2 separate regions of the Homo sapiens genome follow, and region 2 is linked to region 1. Evidence: fine-mapped expression QTL. A gene starts in region 1. The other region holds a variant in brackets. All regions are shown on one strand. Distances are between the middles of the regions.

Evidence for each region. PIP is the estimated chance that this variant, and not a neighbour inherited with it, causes the effect.
Region 2: its variant is fine-mapped to the expression of AMZ1 in whole blood (TOPMed, PIP 0.92).

The regions. Positions count from the first base shown.
Region 1 is chr7:2,684,441-2,692,761 of GRCh38, reverse strand. It overlaps AMZ1 (archaelysin family metallopeptidase 1), which reads right to left and starts at 4,560. Exons shown (of 7, transcript NM_001384743.1): 1 at 4,466-4,560. RefSeq lists an enhancer at 3,592-3,861.
Region 2 is chr7:2,706,488-2,714,808 of GRCh38, reverse strand. AMZ1 (archaelysin family metallopeptidase 1) reads right to left here. Exons shown (of 7, transcript NM_001384743.1): 4 at 6,093-6,221; 5 at 5,565-5,734; 6 at 4,993-5,169; 7 at 1-2,479. The coding sequence ends at 1,931. Among named protein-coding and RNA genes, the nearest start is that of AMZ1, 22 kb to the right of the region's middle. RefSeq lists silencers at 1,468-1,667, 4,846-5,005 and enhancers at 3,326-3,485, 4,126-4,175, 4,186-4,405, 4,551-5,246, 5,166-5,265. The variant G/A (reference allele first, on the strand shown) is at 4,372.

The DNA.
Region 1 (8,321 bases):
GCTGGGCTTGTGGCCAAGGGGTGGGGTACTCCTGCCCTAGCCATGCCAGGTGTCAGCGTGTGGAGGCAGCACCCCCTGCAACCTCTCAGAGTCCCCTCGGGGACTCCTGGGGACCTCGCTACGGAAGAGGCGCCCAGGAAACCCCTGAAGCTGGAATGCCCTCAACAACTCCGAGGGCTCTGGCATGAGCTTGGTCCTCTTTATTTATTTTTTATTTTTTGAGATGGAGCCTCACTCTATCACCCAGGCTGGAGTGCAGTGGCACAATCTCGGCTCACTGCAACCTCCGCTTCCCGGGTTAAAGCGATTCTCCTGCCTCAGCCTCCCGAATAGCTGGGACTAAAGGCGCCCGCCACCACACCCGGCTAATTTTTTTTTGTATTTTTAGTAGAGATGGGGTTTCACGTGTTAGCCAGGATGGTCTCGATCTCCTGACCTCATGATCCGCCCGCCTCGGCCTCCCAGAGTGTTGGGATTACAGGCGTGAGCCACCACGCCCGGCCAAGCTCGGTCCTCTTTCAACCCCACTGTGTCCTCCCTGTGAGATGGGTGTGGTCCCACCTGTCTTCCTCCAGGAGCCTGGCTGGCCCAAGTAGGAGGAGGAGGCACTTAGCCGGCCTCGGAGCACCCGACGCCACAGGAGACTCACCAGCTTATTTTTGTAGTTTCTGGGTACCGGTGACATGACCTGCTCACCGGCTTCTCGCTCCCAGACCTTCCACTCACCAGCACTGCCGCCCACAAGGGGCAAGCACCATAACCTCCCAGTTACCTCCAAATCATTCCCCTAGCGCCGCAGCCAGCTCAGAATTATTTGTTCTGTCCACAGGGGCCTATCAATTATTTCTCTGGAGCAGCCCAGGGCCTTCCAGATGCCCAGGATGGTCTGTGTCCCAGCTTTCCAGAGAATGACATGGTAAAACAGATAGCAATACCTGCGGGCACCCTGGACCAGCCCTGATCAACATTCCCCTTCCGGTGCCTGCCACCCTGCAAAGCCCCAAAATCACTTATTTTTTTTTTTTTTTTTTGAGACGGAGCCTTGCTCTGTCACCCAGGTTAGAGTGCAGTGGCGCAATCTCGGCTCACTGCAACCTCCGCCTCCTGGGTTCACTGCCTGAGCCTCCCGAACAGCTGGGACTGCAGGCGCTCACGACCACACCCAGCTTATTTTTGTATTTTTAGTAGAAACGAGGTTTCACCATATTGGCCAAGCTGTTCTCAGACTCCTGACCTTGTGATCCACCCGCCTCGGCCTCCCGAAGTGCTGGGATTATATGTGTGAGCCACCGCGCCCGGCCCAAAATCACTTTCTGATGCAACACCTTGTCCGACCTCCAAAGCCATCCTGAGATTCACCCATGTCATAACCCAGGAGACTGAGGCTCAGAGAGGGAAAGCCACTTGCCCAGGGTTACACAGCTCACCTGGATCTTGACTCCCAGCACAGAGACCCCTGACTCCAGTCCTCACACACGGACCTTCCCCTACTCTTGAGGGGGCTTTCCTGCCAGCACCCACACCCACCTGACCACCCGAAAACCCTGGTCAGAGGCTTCCCTGCCAGCAAACCCTCCTACTCCAGGCAAAGCATCAGGAAATGAGAAATGCTTTTTTTTTTTTTTTTTTTGCCTCTGTCACCCAGGCTGGAGTGCAGTGGCACAATCTCAGCTCACTGCAACCTCCTTCTCCTCCAGGGTTCAAGCGATTCTCATGCCTCAGCCTCCCTAGTAGCTGGGACTACAGACGCATGCCACCATGCCAGGCTAATTTTGTTATCTTTAGTAGAGACAGGGTTTCACCATGTTGGCCAGGCTAGTATCGAACTCCTGGCCTCAAGTGGTCTGCCTGCCTCGGCCTCCCAAAGCACTGGGATTTCAGAGGTGAGCCACCACACCCGGCTGAGAAATGCCTTCTTTTTACCAAAAGTTCACAAGCCCTACCACATTGGTTCCAGGTGTGACTTGGGCCCAAACTGCCAACCTCAGGCCCATCTAAGTTATTCAGGGAGGACCGAATGGGAGCAACAGGAAGGGCCACAGCGACAAGTTTTGCAGGGGACCAGAGCACACGCACAGAGGAGCCACGACCACAGAGGCCGTTTGCACACCCGCAAGCAGTGGCGGGCACGTGGGTAACTCAAGAGCATCTACATCGGAAACCCAGCCAGAGACACAACACCACCTTCAGCCAACCTGAGCCGCCCGGGAAGGAGTGGCCACGCCAGCTCCAGACTAGCCCGGCTGGAAGATCAACAGGATGTGAGAGGCAAGCTCTAAAAATAGCCACCTCCCGGGACAATCGCTTGAGTCCAGGAGTTTGAGACCAGCCTGGGGAAATATGGCAAAACCCCGTCTCTACAAAACATTTTAAAAATTAGCTGGGCATGGTTGTGCATGCCTGTGGTCCCAGCTACTAGGGAGGCTGAGATGGGAGGATTGCTTTCGCCCTGGAGGTCGAGGCTGTGGTGAGCTATGATTGCATCACTGCATTCCAGCCTGGAAGACAGAGCAAGACCCTGTCTGTCTGTCTGTCTGTCTCTCTCTCTCTCTCACACACACACAAAAACACAGCCACCTCCTAGTGCAGACTGGAGAATGGTGTGACAGGCTCCAAGCTAGGAATGAGAACGCTTAGCTCCCTCCATCCCTTAACACGGGTACAGCTCTCGGGCATCCAGGGCATGACGTCTGCCCACATACTATTTCCTCTCAAGAAGCCTTGTGGCCACATTCGTCTTCGTGGGTCATTCAGGAAAACCCCGGTCCCCACTGTCAGCTGCCAGCTGAGTCCTTCCATCCTGCCAGGTCATTTCTGCACAAGACCACTCCTCACATAGAGCCAGAGCTGCATGTGAGCCCTGGGGGTACCCACGGGGAGGGAGCCGCCTTAGTGGGGGTCAGCTTCGCAGCACCCTCTGGCACTCACCAACCCATCCATGCTCCAAAAAGGAGACCCCCAGATGGAGGTTTCTCGCTGTCCTTTGGACCCTGTCACAGTGTGTCCCCCTCCTCTGCTAACTGCAGTCATGACAGCAGCCAACAGGTCTCATGCCTGCGTCCTCCAAGCCACACACGGAGCCGCAGGTGCCACTGCGGTGTTTCAGGTGGGGAAACTGAGGCTCAGACGTTAAGTGACTTGGCCCTGGCGACACAGCTGGGGGCCAGCGGGGCCTGGTTTCAAAGCCACGCTTCACACTGGAACCCCAGCTGCTCCTGGAGCAGGGATGTTCTGACGGGGACAGGGGGTAGGACGTCTCCTCTCCCAGAGCACCCGAGTTCCAGCCCTGCTGCTATTAATACCATGGGTAAACTCAGACGCTTCTCCTTCCTCCTCCCCTTGCCTTTTTTTGTCCAAAGACTGGAAAAGAGCACGTCCGCATCCCCCCCCCAGGGAGGTTCTGCCGCTCTAAGCAACAAGGGCCGCCAGACTGGCCCAGTAACCAGGTATCCAAGGTCAGGCTGCCCTAAACCGCACAGCTCCGGGCACTCATGCTCCCCCATCTGACCACGCAGATGCCTGGCCTTTGGGCAAGAAACCATGCTCTGATTCTCGCTATTCTGAATGCGCTTTGCAAAACCTCCCAGCAGCTGCATCGAGCTATTCATTAGCTGACAGCGGAGACCTTCAGGCAGAACCAGACGGACGGATGGTTTTGGGGGTTTCTCACCTCTCAGTTTCCATTCGCTAGGAGGGAAAACCGGGGGCTTAGACCGCAGGGGTAGTGGCCTCCGGGCCAGACTCTTGGCTTCCTGTTCTCTCTCCTCACCTGCGAACCCCAAACTCCTCTGCCAAGTGTTTCCCTCCCGTGATGGGGGCAGAAAGGACCCAGGTCCCTGCCCTCCCCTGTCCTTTGTAAAGTTTGCCATTTCTCTGTCACCCCTCCCTTGCTTTTCTGGTTTTGAGACCTGTCTTACATCCCTGCAGGGATCATATCCACAGCCTTCTCCCTCAGTCTCCTGGGGGAGGAAGCCTTCTCCCTCCCCGGCTCATACACAGGCTGCGGGGAGCCCTGGGCACGACGAGATTCTCGGCGCCCTGGAGGTTCCCCGGGGACGTCCCGCACCCACCTGGCTCGCCCCAGCCCGGAAACGCCTTCTTTCGGGCGCTTGGCCCTGGATTCCCGACCCGTCCCCAGTTTGCTCCCATCGGGAAGCGCGCAGGTCGCCCTGGCCTGGGAGAGGATGGCGGGGAGGGGGCGCGTGGCCCTTCCCTGGCCCGGCCTTCCCTCTGCAGGACCTGCCGGGGCTGTGCGGACCCCGGCGCGGCGCTGCACCAAACCCTCGCCAAGTGCGCCCTTCGCGTCTCCGCGGTCCCCGCGCGCCCGTAGCCGCCGCCGCCCGGGCGCCCTCGGGACTTGGTGCGCGGGCCGGGCTGGACCCGGAGCTGCCCCTACCCACCCGCCCCGGCACGGAGGTCCCTCTCGGTCCCTGCGCCCCCGAGTCTTCCCCGCGCGCCCCCCTACCTCGCAGTCCCGCGCCCGCCGGAGCCGGCAGAGGCCGCGCCGGGCACCGAGCCCCGGGCAGCAGCGTGGGCAGCTCGGCCTGGGCCGGGAGGATCGGGAGGTCCCGGTGACGTCGGCGCGCGGGGCAGGGACCGAGGCGGGCGGGACTGGGGCCGGTGTGGGGCCGCGGGCAGGACAGGAGGGCCACACCCCTCCCGGCGCTCAGCGTCCTGCCCCACTCCCTCCAGCTGCCCGCGGTGGAGCTCACGTGGGACCCTCCAGCCTCCCAGAAACACCCGGGCAGGGGGGCCCCAGAGCCTAAAGCCAAACAGGTGAGGGAGGTCAGTCAGCCCGGGCCAGTTCGTGCCTCCCCAGGTGAGAGGAGTAAACCCGGCTACTCTGCAAGGCGCCAGGTGAAGAGGTGAACCAGGCCACCAGTTAAGGCCCCAGGTGAGAGGGGTGAACCAGCGCCACGAGGTGAGGAAGGGGAACCAGGCCACCAGGAGAGGCCCCAGGTGAGAGGGGTGAACCAGGCTATCAGGCAAGGCGCCAGGTGAGGGGGTGAACGAGGCCACCAGGTGAGGAGGTGAACCAGGCTTATCAGCGAAGCCCCAGGTGAGAGGGGTGAACCAGGCCCCTAGGTTAGCCCTACAGTCAGTGGCCCTGAGGACGGGCGCCCTGCCCTACCCTGGCCAGCTGTGAGTGCAGCCCTGGCCCTGTGCCAGCCACCAGGAGATGGAAAGGACTCTAAGTGCGGAAGGATGCCGTGAAGGCCGGCATGACGGCTCCAGACAGAGCCCAGAGGCCTTTTCCATAAACTGCCCTTTTCCTCTCTGCAAACCCTCCCAGCACCAGCTTCCCTCGGGCAGCCTCCCACCAGCTCTGCTTCACCGTGCAGAAATGCCCCCCACGCCCTCAGCAGCGCCCCACAGATGGCTGAGGGATTCGTCACCATCGTCCCACACCAGTGCAAAGAATTTTTTTTTTTTTTTAGATGGAGTCTCGCTCTGTCGCCCAGGCTGGAGTGTAATGGTGCAATCTGGGCTCACTGCAACCTCCACCTCCGGGGTTCAAGTCATTCTTCTGCCTCAGCCGCCTGAGTAGTGGGGATTATAGGTACCCATCATTGTGTCCAGCTAATTTTTGTATTTTTAATAGAGATGGGGTTTCACCTTCTTGGCCAGGCTGGTATCAAACTCTTGACCTCATGATACACCCGCCTCAGCCTCTCAAAGTGCTGGGAGTACAGGCGTGAGCCACCACACCCAGCCTCAAAGAATTTTTTTAAGCCTTAAGAAATAACACGGCTGGGCGTGGTGGCTCATGCCTGTAATCCCAGCACTTTGGGAGGCTGAGGCAGACAGATCACAAGGTCAGGAGTTCAAGACCGGCCTGGCCAGTATGGTCAAACCCCGTCTCTATTAAAAATAAAAAAATTAGCTGGGCGTGGTGGCTGGTGCCTATAGTCCCAGCTACTCGGGAGGCTGAAGCAGGAGAATCACTTGAACCCGGGAGGCGGAGGTTGCAGTGAGCCGAGATTATGCCACTGCACTCCAGCCTGGGTGACAAAGCAAGACTTTGTTTCAAAAAAAAAAGAGAGAGAGAGAAAAACAACACAACACTAGGTGTCCGGTGTGCAAAATTTGGAAAATTATGAAAAATAAAAACAAAAAGAAGACCCCATAAGCCAACTGTGTAGAGGTAACCTCTCTCACCTTCTTGTCAGACATCCTTCTGATCGCCTTCTCCTCCACATTGAAATGTATTTTTAAAAAGTTTTTTTTGAGACAGGATCTTGCTCTATTGCCCAAGCTAGAATGCACTGGTATAAACGCGAGTCACTGTAGCCTCGACCTCCTAGACTCCAGCAATCCTCCTCCCTCAGCCTCCTGAGTAGCTGAGACTACAGGTACGTGCCATCACACCTGGCTAATTTTGAAACTTTTATGTAGAGATGGGATCTCGCTATGTTGCTCAAGCTGGTCTCAAACTCCTGGGCTCAAACAACCCTCCCAGCTCGGCCTCCCAAAATGTTGAGATCACAGGTATGAGCCACCGTGCCCAGCCTAAATACATATTTTAAGGGATTCACGTCACATACTGCGTTCTGCAGGCGGCCCGTGACTTCACACTCATCAATAGCCAAAAGTCCGTCTCCACACCCTGATGGTCTGCGCTGGACTCCGTGTCATGGATCTGTCACCTGCTTTGGGATATTTTGGTTTCTCCTGGTGTCTCACTAGCATATATCACTGTGATAGACGATCTTGTTTCCACAGATCTTTGTACAGGTATCTGGTCCCCCTCACCTTGGGATAAATTCCTACAAATAGATTGTGACTCAGAAAGCTGCACTTCTTCACACGTGTTGCCGCAGGGATTTTCCAGGTTATTTCTGTTGGGGATGGAGAACCCAGAACCTGAGAAAAGATGAATGTTCTTTTTTTTTTTTTTTTTTTTTTCTTGAGACGGAGTCTCGCTCTGTCACTCAGGCTGGAGTGCAGTGGCGTGATCTCGGCTCACTGCAAGCTCCACCTCCCGGGTTCACACCATTCTCCTGCCTCAGCCTCCTAAGTAGCTGGGACTACAGGCGCCTGCCATCATGCCTAGCTAATTTTTGTGTTTTTAGTAGAGATGGGGTTTCACCATGTTGGCCAGGATGGTCTCGATCTCCTGACCTCGTGATCCGCCTGCCACGGCCTCCCAAAGTGCTGGGATTACAGGCATGAGCCACCGCACCCGGCCTTTTTTTTTTTTTGAGACGGAGTCTCACTCTGTTGCCCAGAGCTGGAGTACAAGTGGCGCGATCTCGGCTCACTGCAAACTCCACTTCCTGGGTTCAAGCGATTCTCCTGCCTCAGCCACCCAAGTAGCTGCGATTACAGGTGCCCGTCACCTCGCCCGGCTAATTTTTGTATTTTTAGGAAGGACAGGGCTTCACCCTGTTGGCCAGGCTGGTCTCGAACTCCTGACTTCAAGTGATCCACCCGCCTTGGCCTCCCAAATTGCTGGGATTACAGGCGTGAGCCACCGAGCCTGGCCTGAATGTTCTGTCCTAAAGCTGCTTATTACAAAGAAGTTGTGGAATATCCTCCCCCCAACCCCCACGCCCCTCCCTGAATAGCCACCGGAAAGGAAATTATGCATCGAGGCCGGGCGCGGCGGCTCAACCTGTAATCCCAGCACTTTGGGAGGCCGAGGCGGGCGGATCACGAGGTCAGAAGATCAAGACCATCCTGGCTAACACAGTGAAACTCCATCTTTACTAAAGATACAAAAAATTAGCCGGGCGTGGTGGCGGGCGCCTGTAGTCCCAGCTACTCAGGAGGCTGAGGCAGGAGAATGGCGTGAACCTGGGAGGCGGAGCTTGCAGTGAGCTGAGATCGCGCCACTGCACTCCAGCCTGGGCGACAGAGACTCCGTCTCAAAAAAAAAAAAAAAAAAAGCAATTATGTGTCAAGCCCAGAGTGGCAGTTCCTCCTCTGTCTGTTGGGTCAGCCCGGGAGACTGGAAGCCCAGATGAGTAGGGCCCCTCCTGGGTGCCCCAAGTTGGGTGGCGCCATGCCCAGTGCCAGGACCCCCGAAACACAGAGGCAGCCTGCTGATGACCTGGCCCCTGCCAGCCAAGGCTTCACTCAGCCAACGCCCTGTCCACACTGCACCCGGGACACGCTGGTCTCCCACCGGCAGACTGCACACCCCTTTCTGGTTGAAGCTACCTCGTCAGAGTCTATTCTAGAAAGAGGCCGTGATATGGGGACCCCTGTCCTTTCAGTGATGAACAAAGGGGGCCGCCCCCAACTTTGACCCCATCACCATCCTCTGACCCAGGCCGACTTGGGGTTAAAAGAGAACTGTGTGGCCTGGGGAAGCTGCT
Region 2 (8,321 bases), 22 kb before region 1:
AGATGCCCCTCCTCCATGGAGAGTCTCACGTGGGCAGGAACCAAGGCCTGAGATTCCCAGCCAAATTCCACTTGGCAGCCGTGTGAACGAACACTCCAGTCGAGCCACAGGGGCAAACCGTCTCCACCGAGCTCTGCCCAAGTTACAGATTCATGAGCTAGACTGTGGTGATTTTAAGCCACTAAGTTTTGGGTGGTTGTTTGCAGCAACAGCCACCAGGCTCCGGCTTTCACCTTCTGTTACTGCAGGGTGCTCTGCCGGCACCTTCCATTGGTCACTTTCTGAAAGGCCTAGCTCTTCATCTCCCCTCCCAGGTCACTGTTACGCCTTTTTGAAGCTACGCAAAAGAGAACGGGACGAAGATCCTAATGCTACTTCTGAGCTGCATCTTTGCTTCTCTGAAGTCAACACGGAGTGGGACCAGGACCGGGAGCCTTCAGTCGGCCTCCACCAATGTCAGATTCACAAGGAAGCCTCAGCCCACCTCACCTGCATAGCCCTTCTAGTTTTAGTTTTGTATTTTGTTTTTCTTAGAAGCCCTCCATAACCGTGTGAGCCACCCACCCACAAAAGGTCCAAGCTGCCCTGTTCTTGCCTCTCTCCAGATGAGGGTGCGCGAGCTGTGACCCCGCCCTCGTCACTCCGAAGGGATTCCGCTGTCAGAACCGGAAGTCTCTCTCCCAGAGACCCTCCACCACAGGCTGAGGGGGTACGTGTGACAATAAAAGGGTCAATTCCTCAGGAAGACACAACAATCAAATGTGCAGGGACGTAAAGGAGCTTCAAAGTGCAGGAAGCAAAATCCGGCAAAACTAAAGGGAGACAGATCAAACGCCCAGCCATGGCAATAATACCCCTCTCTCAGCAACTGACAGAACTAGACCGAAAAAAAAAGGAAAGACAGATCATCTGATCACCACCTCCAGCTACTTGGTACTGACAGCGCGGCCACCTTTGCCAAGAAACTGTCCCAAAAACATCACCACAGTTGATCTTCCCCACGGTGAGCTGTAGCCGCCTCAGGAATAAGGGGGCCTCTGCCCTCAGTGCACGTCAGACACCCTCACCTCCTGCAGTGTTTGTCAGAAGAGATGCCTGGAGAGCCCCGGTGAAGTCCGTCAGGATCAGGATGCTGTTAGCGCCACAGAACGTGACAGTGTGTGTGTGCATGTGGTTGACGCCTGAGATGATAGAGACAAAACCCCGTCACTTCCCCGTTAGGGAGGAGACTCAGCCTTGGAAGCTGGGTGGCAGTGTGGAGCCTGTGTGCCCCCGGGGTCACTCCTCATCTGAGCCAGCCTCTCCAGCTCCAGCTATAAATAACTGAAGGGCAGGCCCACAGCCTGGAAGGAGACAGGACGCACGCTGCTTCCTTCTGCCTCTGCAGGGGAGGGGGCTCTGTCCCAACCTCAGCACAGTCCGGCTTGTACTCCACGAGAAGCACCCAGGATCAGGGAGGCCTCTCCATGTGTGCAGGCCCCTGGGAGCGGCTGGCTGGGACTCAGGAGTTGAAGGAGGCGCCTGAAGACAGGTGGTCTGTGGCTTCTCCAAAGAACTTTTTTTTTTCTGGAGACAGTCTTTCTGTGTGGCCCAGACTGCAGTACAGTGGTATGATCACATCCCACTGCAGCCTCGACCTCCTAGGCTCAAGCAATCCTCCCACCTCAGCCTCCTGAATAGCTGGGAACACAGGCATGAACCACTTCATCCAGCTAATTTTTTAATTTTTCTTTTGTAGAGGCAGAGTCTCACCATGTTGCCCAGTCTGGTCTCAAACTCCTGGCCTCTCAAAGTGATGGGATGACAGGCCTGAGCCACCACCCAGGCAGACCCTTCCTCTTTATCCCTGGCAGGTCAGTAGTGGCCTCAGCTACTGGACAGTGCTGGCCAGCATCCTTAGGGAAGGAGACGTAGGGCAGCCCCTGCTGTACTAACTCTCTTCCCCATCCCAGGGACGGGGGGCCGACTCTGCTCTGGCGAGTTTTCGGGCACTCAGCTTCCTCCTCAGGGAGGAGAACTTGTCCCCCAGCACCTTGCGCAGCCCCACGCTGTCCCTGCTGCTGGGTGGGTCCTGCCTGGTGGCCGGGAGCTGGCCCGTGAACATCTCCCAGCGGTCGAGGGCGTCCACGGCTCTGTCCACCTGCACCAGGTCCTCCTCTGCCACTTCCCGCTGCAGGGCCTGGATGCACATGGCCAGCCACCGTTCATGCTCCTTGATGGCCTCCGCAGGGCCCCCAGGTGGCAGCGGAGCCTCTGAGGCTGCCAGGTAGCTCAGCCCTTCCTCTGGCCCCGAGGCGAAGGTGTGACTCCCGGCATCAGGGGTGAGGGGCTCCGACACACTGGTGCCGGGCTCCGAGTCACTCTCACAGCACATGCCCGAGTCGGCGCTGGCAGGCGGGGTGTCCTCCCACACTGACGGCTCCCCCGCCTCCTGGCTGGGCCACGTCCCCACCACCGCCTGAGTCCAGGTGTAGAGTCTCTAAGAGGGAGAAACACAGGCTGAGTTTGCTCCGTGCCAGCCCTTGTCTAGCCAGGGAACTGCCAGGAGACCTCCTTACCTAAGGGGACCCCACCGTCCTCAGTTACCCAGGGGCGGGAGTCAGGCTGGTGGTGTGAGGGCTCTTGTGACCAGCACCCTTTGAGGACTCATGTCCAGGCTGTGCCAGAGTCAGAGGTACCCACCCCCAAGAGCTCACCATTCAGGAACTTCGCAAGCTCCTTGTCATCCAAAGTTAGAACACTTAACATTTTTCGATTTTTTTAAGACAGAGGCTCACTCTGTTGGCCAGGCTGGAGTGCAGTGCTGCGATCTCAGCTCACTGCAACCTCCCCCTCCCAGGTTCAAGCAATTCTCCTGCGTTGGCCTCCTGAGTAGCAGGGATTTTACAGGTTCCTGCCAGCATGCCTGGCTAATTTTTACATTTTTTAGTGGAGACGGGGTTTCACCATGTTAGCCAGGCTGGTCTCAAACTCCTGACCTCAGATGACCCACCCACCTCCGCCTCCCAAAGTGCTGGGATTACAGGTGTGAGCCACGGCACCCACCCAGAAAGCGTATAATTAAATAAAATTTAAAATTTTAAAGCAAAGGTGTGGGCATGGTGGCTCACGCTTGTAATCCCAGCACAGGGAGGCAGAGGCAGGAGGATCACTTGAAACCAGGAGTTCAAGACCAGCCTGGGCAACATAGTGAGACCACCAGGGGGAAAAAAATGTAAAGCAAAGGCAGTACTTGAAACTCACTTCCTAAATGTTTTCTCCATTTCACTCTCACCTCTGCTCTCAAGGTTAGTCTCCTCTCCTGCATCTGTACAGGGGACACACAGTTTAACAAGGTCCCACTGCACATCTGTTCCCAACTCAGCACTCACTGACATCACATTGGGAGCTCACATCAGCCATCGTGAGACTGTTTACACCACAGGAAGTGGCAGAGACCACAACAAGTCAGGCTTTCTTCAAGAGGCATTTCACTGATTGCTGTCAGTGGACAGCAGTGACCTTTTCTGGCCAGGCCCTTGGTCAGCTCTCCAGCACCTCCCCAAGCCCTGGGACAGCAGGTGACCTCACATCCACACCACTGCCCTCCCTACAACAGCCAGGAGGGCCAGGCCACCCTGGAGTGCCTTTGCCCTGGCCCTCTTCCCTCCACAGCCTCAGGAGATGGTGCTCACGGAACGGAGAGAGCTCTGGGCAGGAGGAGGAGCTACACCCTCCAGCTCAGATCCAGGTGGATCCAGGCTATGCCAGGTCAGCACGTGTAGGGAGGGGCATACACTTTCTAAAAGTTCATGTCAGATGGTTGCACAAGACCCCAGGTGAAGGCATCAAATGAGAGCTCTCAACCCTTTCTGCAGACCAAGCTGCCCCTGTGCCTGTTACACAGCCTCAGGAAGGTACTAAGAGCTGCCCCTTGACGGGGCACAGCTGGCAGCAGCAACCTTTACAAGGCATCACCAGGTGCTGACCAGCCATCACGCCACCTGTACCCTCGGGAGATGCTCCTACCCTCAGCCATGGCTGCGCCTGGGTTCCCCCCAAGTCACAGGCTCTTCTCCTTACACTTGGAAAAGCTGTTTCCTCTGTGCCCCCTTCACCTTCCCTTGACTGCCAGAGTCTTCAGAGAGGATCCCTGCAGAGAGATTCCAGCACTGTGAGCTAGAAATGCCACGGCCTCTAGTTCAGTGTCACCCAGGACCCTGCAAGATACAGCTCCTCACTCTACCCCAGAAGGAAGGAGGGCCCAGCTAGGCCCTGCAGGGGATTCTGACAGGCTCGGTCCGGGAACCACACCCCCACTTGCCTCAACGGGCGGGAGGAGGATGCAGGGGCTTTCCAGCGCGGTTTCATTGACTGCTCTGGTGCCTGTAC[G/A]CAGTGAGCACCTTATAACTGGTTGTAGTCCAAAGCTGGGTTTGAAGAAAAATTACCACCACCTGCCTTTGCACTCAGAACTCAGAGTAAAGCTTTTGAGCTTGCAAACAAATGTCCATGAATACGGACGAGCCCTTTGCTCGGCAACCCCACCCAGGCGACAGAGGGAGTTAGGAATGGAGGCCACCTCCAACAAGCCTTGTTGTGTCAGCTCCCACCTCCTCGCAAGGGGCCTGTGCCTCCTCTGAGCAGCAGTGACCCAAGTGTGGGTGACGGGAAAGCAAAGAGAAAGTTACCCTGGGAAGACCGTGCCACCCGCCGGCTGGGCTCCAATGCCAGCTCTTCCTGACAGAGGGAGAAAAGCCCTCGTCCCCACTCGACCCCGCTGCAACCTCCCAGTCACAGCCACCACACGCGGGCCCTGGCAGGACTCGATCTACTGCCAGTGAGATCCGGATGGAGCTCAACCCCAGCGCAGGTCCCAGGGCTCTGCACTGCCTGGAACCCGGCAGTTGACAAAGCCTGTGTGCGGTCCCCATGCCCTGCGTAGCCTCCAGGCGGCGCTCGCGGGCCTCCGGAGCGCAGGTCCCAGCAGCCGGGCAGCGCAACTCAGCCACTCACCTGGTACCTCTCGATGAGCCTGAAACCCAGGACATGCTGCAGCTTCCTCAGGCAGATGGGACAGAGGTCCAGGGGCCGCCGCAGGGCCTCGTCCAGGCTGAGCGCACCCTGCATGAGGCAGCGGAGCCAGCGGCAGTTCCCCAGGCCCAGAAGGTGGCAGAGCTCGTGGCACGTGACCTGGGGGGAAGGCCACCAAGCACCTTGCCTCACTGCCTTGCCCCTGCATCCGGCAGATCCCCAGGCAGCCCCAGCAGGACCAAAATGAGGACCTGGGTGAGGCCAGATGGCCGGGAGGTGGTCCAGGCGCCCTCCCCCTGCCCCAGGCGGCACAGGCCACTTTCAGGGCCCCAGGGGAAAGGTGAGTCAGGGTGGGAGGCCACACAGGATAGGGGCTTGGGGCTCTAATCCCTCCCCTGCTGCTTCATAGCTGTGTAGCCTTGCTTTCCTCATTCCATAGAGTTAGGGGTCCATCCACTTCACTGTGAGGATGGGGCAGTGTAACAGACCGAGGCACCAAGGGCTCAGACAGCACCCTCCTGTCCCCTCTTACCAGCCCCAGAGCCCCCACCCACCTTGCAGCACTGAACCATCCCCAGGGCACTGAAGCACAGGGCCCAGCCCCTGTCCTGCAGGGGGGCCTCGGGGCCGTCTGCTGCTGCCTCTACCAGGGCCAGATCAGGGGCGCTGGGCCCCGACTTCGGGAATTCCCCTGAGAACCGGGCGAAGCTGCAGACGCCCACTTCTGGAGAGAGATGGAGAGAAGGGCACTCTCAGGGGTCAGCCTTGGCTCTGGGGGGCCCACCGTCAAACCCACCTCATGCTCTCATGCAAGCTGGCCATGGCCCAAAGACATACCAGTCCTGGGAGGCCCTGTCCTGCCCACATGAAGTTGGGCCCTGGGGCAGACGCCACAGCTGAGGAACAGCCCCTATGCCATTCCTCAGGAGGAGCTGGAAGGGGCCATCTATTCCCATGCACAGGTGTTGACTTCCACCAGGAGGGTGCTTGAAGCAAAAGCAAAGAGGGTGCCCTGCAGCCACGGAGGCCACAGCCCCATGCCAGGCTACCCCCCACGCACAGCTGCTGGGGCCCCGGCTCACCGTGCCCTGGAAGGAACTTGCTGAAGGTGAAGCTCCAGGCCTCATGGGGGTACAGGTCAGACAGTGTGAGGCCCAGCACACACAGCGCGTCCCCTGGCTTGTTGTTCTTCAAGAAGGACAGGATGCCGTCTGCGGGGAGAGGGCCAGAGGATGGGGTCAGGAGGCAGCCGGGGACCCCCATCTTCCAGGCTCAGGCTGGCACCCCGTCATCCTCTTCCTCTGCCTGGGCCCTGCCCCTTCCCAAGTCAGGTGTGGGCCACCAGCGTTTGGTGTGACCTGAGGGCACACAGTACTGCATGATGTGGAGTGACAGCCAGGGCCATTTGGAGATCAGGACATGGTAAGTCAAAGGCCATGGACAGCCCAGTGGGGACGCTGGAGAGGCAGCCGGGCCAACAAGACTGGCGCTTGCAGCCCCAGGAAGGAGAAGCCACCTCAGCAGCTGAGCGACAGCCCCAGAGAGTCCACGTCTCAGCCCTGGGACCTGTGAGTCCCCACAGCCAAAGGGGCTGCAGATGATTAAAGATCTTGGGATGGAGGCGTTTTTCTGCAGCAGCCAGCTGAGCCTGATGCCATCACAAGAACCCTCGGTAAGGCCGGGCACAGTGGCTCACACCTGTGATGCCAGCAACTCGGGAGGCCAAGATGGGCAGATCACCTGAGGTCAGGAGTTCGAGACCAGCCTGGCCAACATGACAAAACCCCATCTCTACTAAAAATACAAAATGAGCCGGGCCTGGTGGTGCGTGCCTGTAATCCCAACTACTCAGGAGTCTGAGACGGGAGAATTGCTTGAACCCAGGAGGTAGAGGTGGCAATGAGCTGACATCACGCCACTGCCCTCTAGCCTGGGCAACAGAGCCAGACTCCATCTCAAAAAAAAAAAAAAAAAAAAAAAGCCCTCGTTAGAGGCAGCAGGGGGTCTGGGTGAGAACGTGAGGCCTGAGGGCACTGCAGGGCTGGCTCGGAGGAAGGACCATTAGCCAAGGATACGGGTGCCTCTAGAAGCTGGAAAGGGCAGGAAATGGATTCTCCCTGGAGTTTCCTGGAGCCAACCCTTGACTTTAGCCTGGGCAGTGGGGGCGCTCCTGACCCACAGCACTGTGAGATCACAGTGGGTCATCCAAGCTAGCAAGTTGTGTAACTTGTTAGCATGGTTCCCCGGAGCATGAGTGTGGACAGATACAGGAGAGGCCCAGGGGCTGAACCTGGGCACGATGGCATCAAAGCCGGGAAACCAGAAGCCCAGGGAGGGAAGGGGGCAGAGCAGCCACCACGGGCCCAGGAAACCCGGAGAGGGTCTCAGAGTTAGTGTAGAGAAGAGGGGTTGCGGCACAGAGGCACACCGGAGAAGTGTTTTCCAAGGAGTTCTACCATTAAAAGGAACAGATTGACAAGGAGGTTGTTCTGTGTGTGTGTGTTTTTTTGTTTTTTTTTTTTGAGATGGAGTGTTGCTTTGTTGCCCAGGCTGCAGTGTAGTGGCGCTATCTATCTCAGTTCACTGTAACCTCCGCCTCCCAGGTTCAAGCCATTCTCCTGCCTCAGCTTCCTGAGTAGCAGGGATTACAGGCACGTGCCATCACACCCAGCTAATTTTTGTATTTTTAGTAGAAAGGAGATTTCACCATGTTAGTCAAGCTGGTCTCAAACTCCTACCCTCGTGATCCGTCTGCCTCGGTCTCCCAAAGTGCTGGGATTACAGGCATGACCCACCACAGCTGGCCCTGTGTTTGTTTTTGAGATAACATCCCATTCTGTCACCCAGGCTGGAGTACAATCACAGCTCACGCTGCAGTCTCCACCTCCTGGGCTCAAGCAATCTTCCTGCCTCGGCCTCCTGAGCAGCTGGGTAATTGATTGACAATGATGCTAATGAGGTGATGATGATTGACAGTGATGATTGTTGTGGATCAGGCTATGTCCCCCAAAAAGACAGGTGGAAGTCCTAACCCCCGGAACCTGCCATTGTTTGGAAACAGGATCTGTGCAGATGTAATCCAGTTAAGATGAGGTCATGAAGGAGACCCAGTGACTGGAGTCTTAGAAGAGACGCAGAGGCACATGGCGTAAAGCTCACGGGAAGTCAAAGGCTGAGGTTGGAGTTGTGCATCTGGAAGCCACAGAGGGCTGGGCATTGCCAGCAACTTCCAGAAGCTGGAGGCAGCCAGGAAGCACCCTCCACGGAGCCTTCTGAGACCACGTGGCCCTGCCAAAACCTTGGTTAAGAAC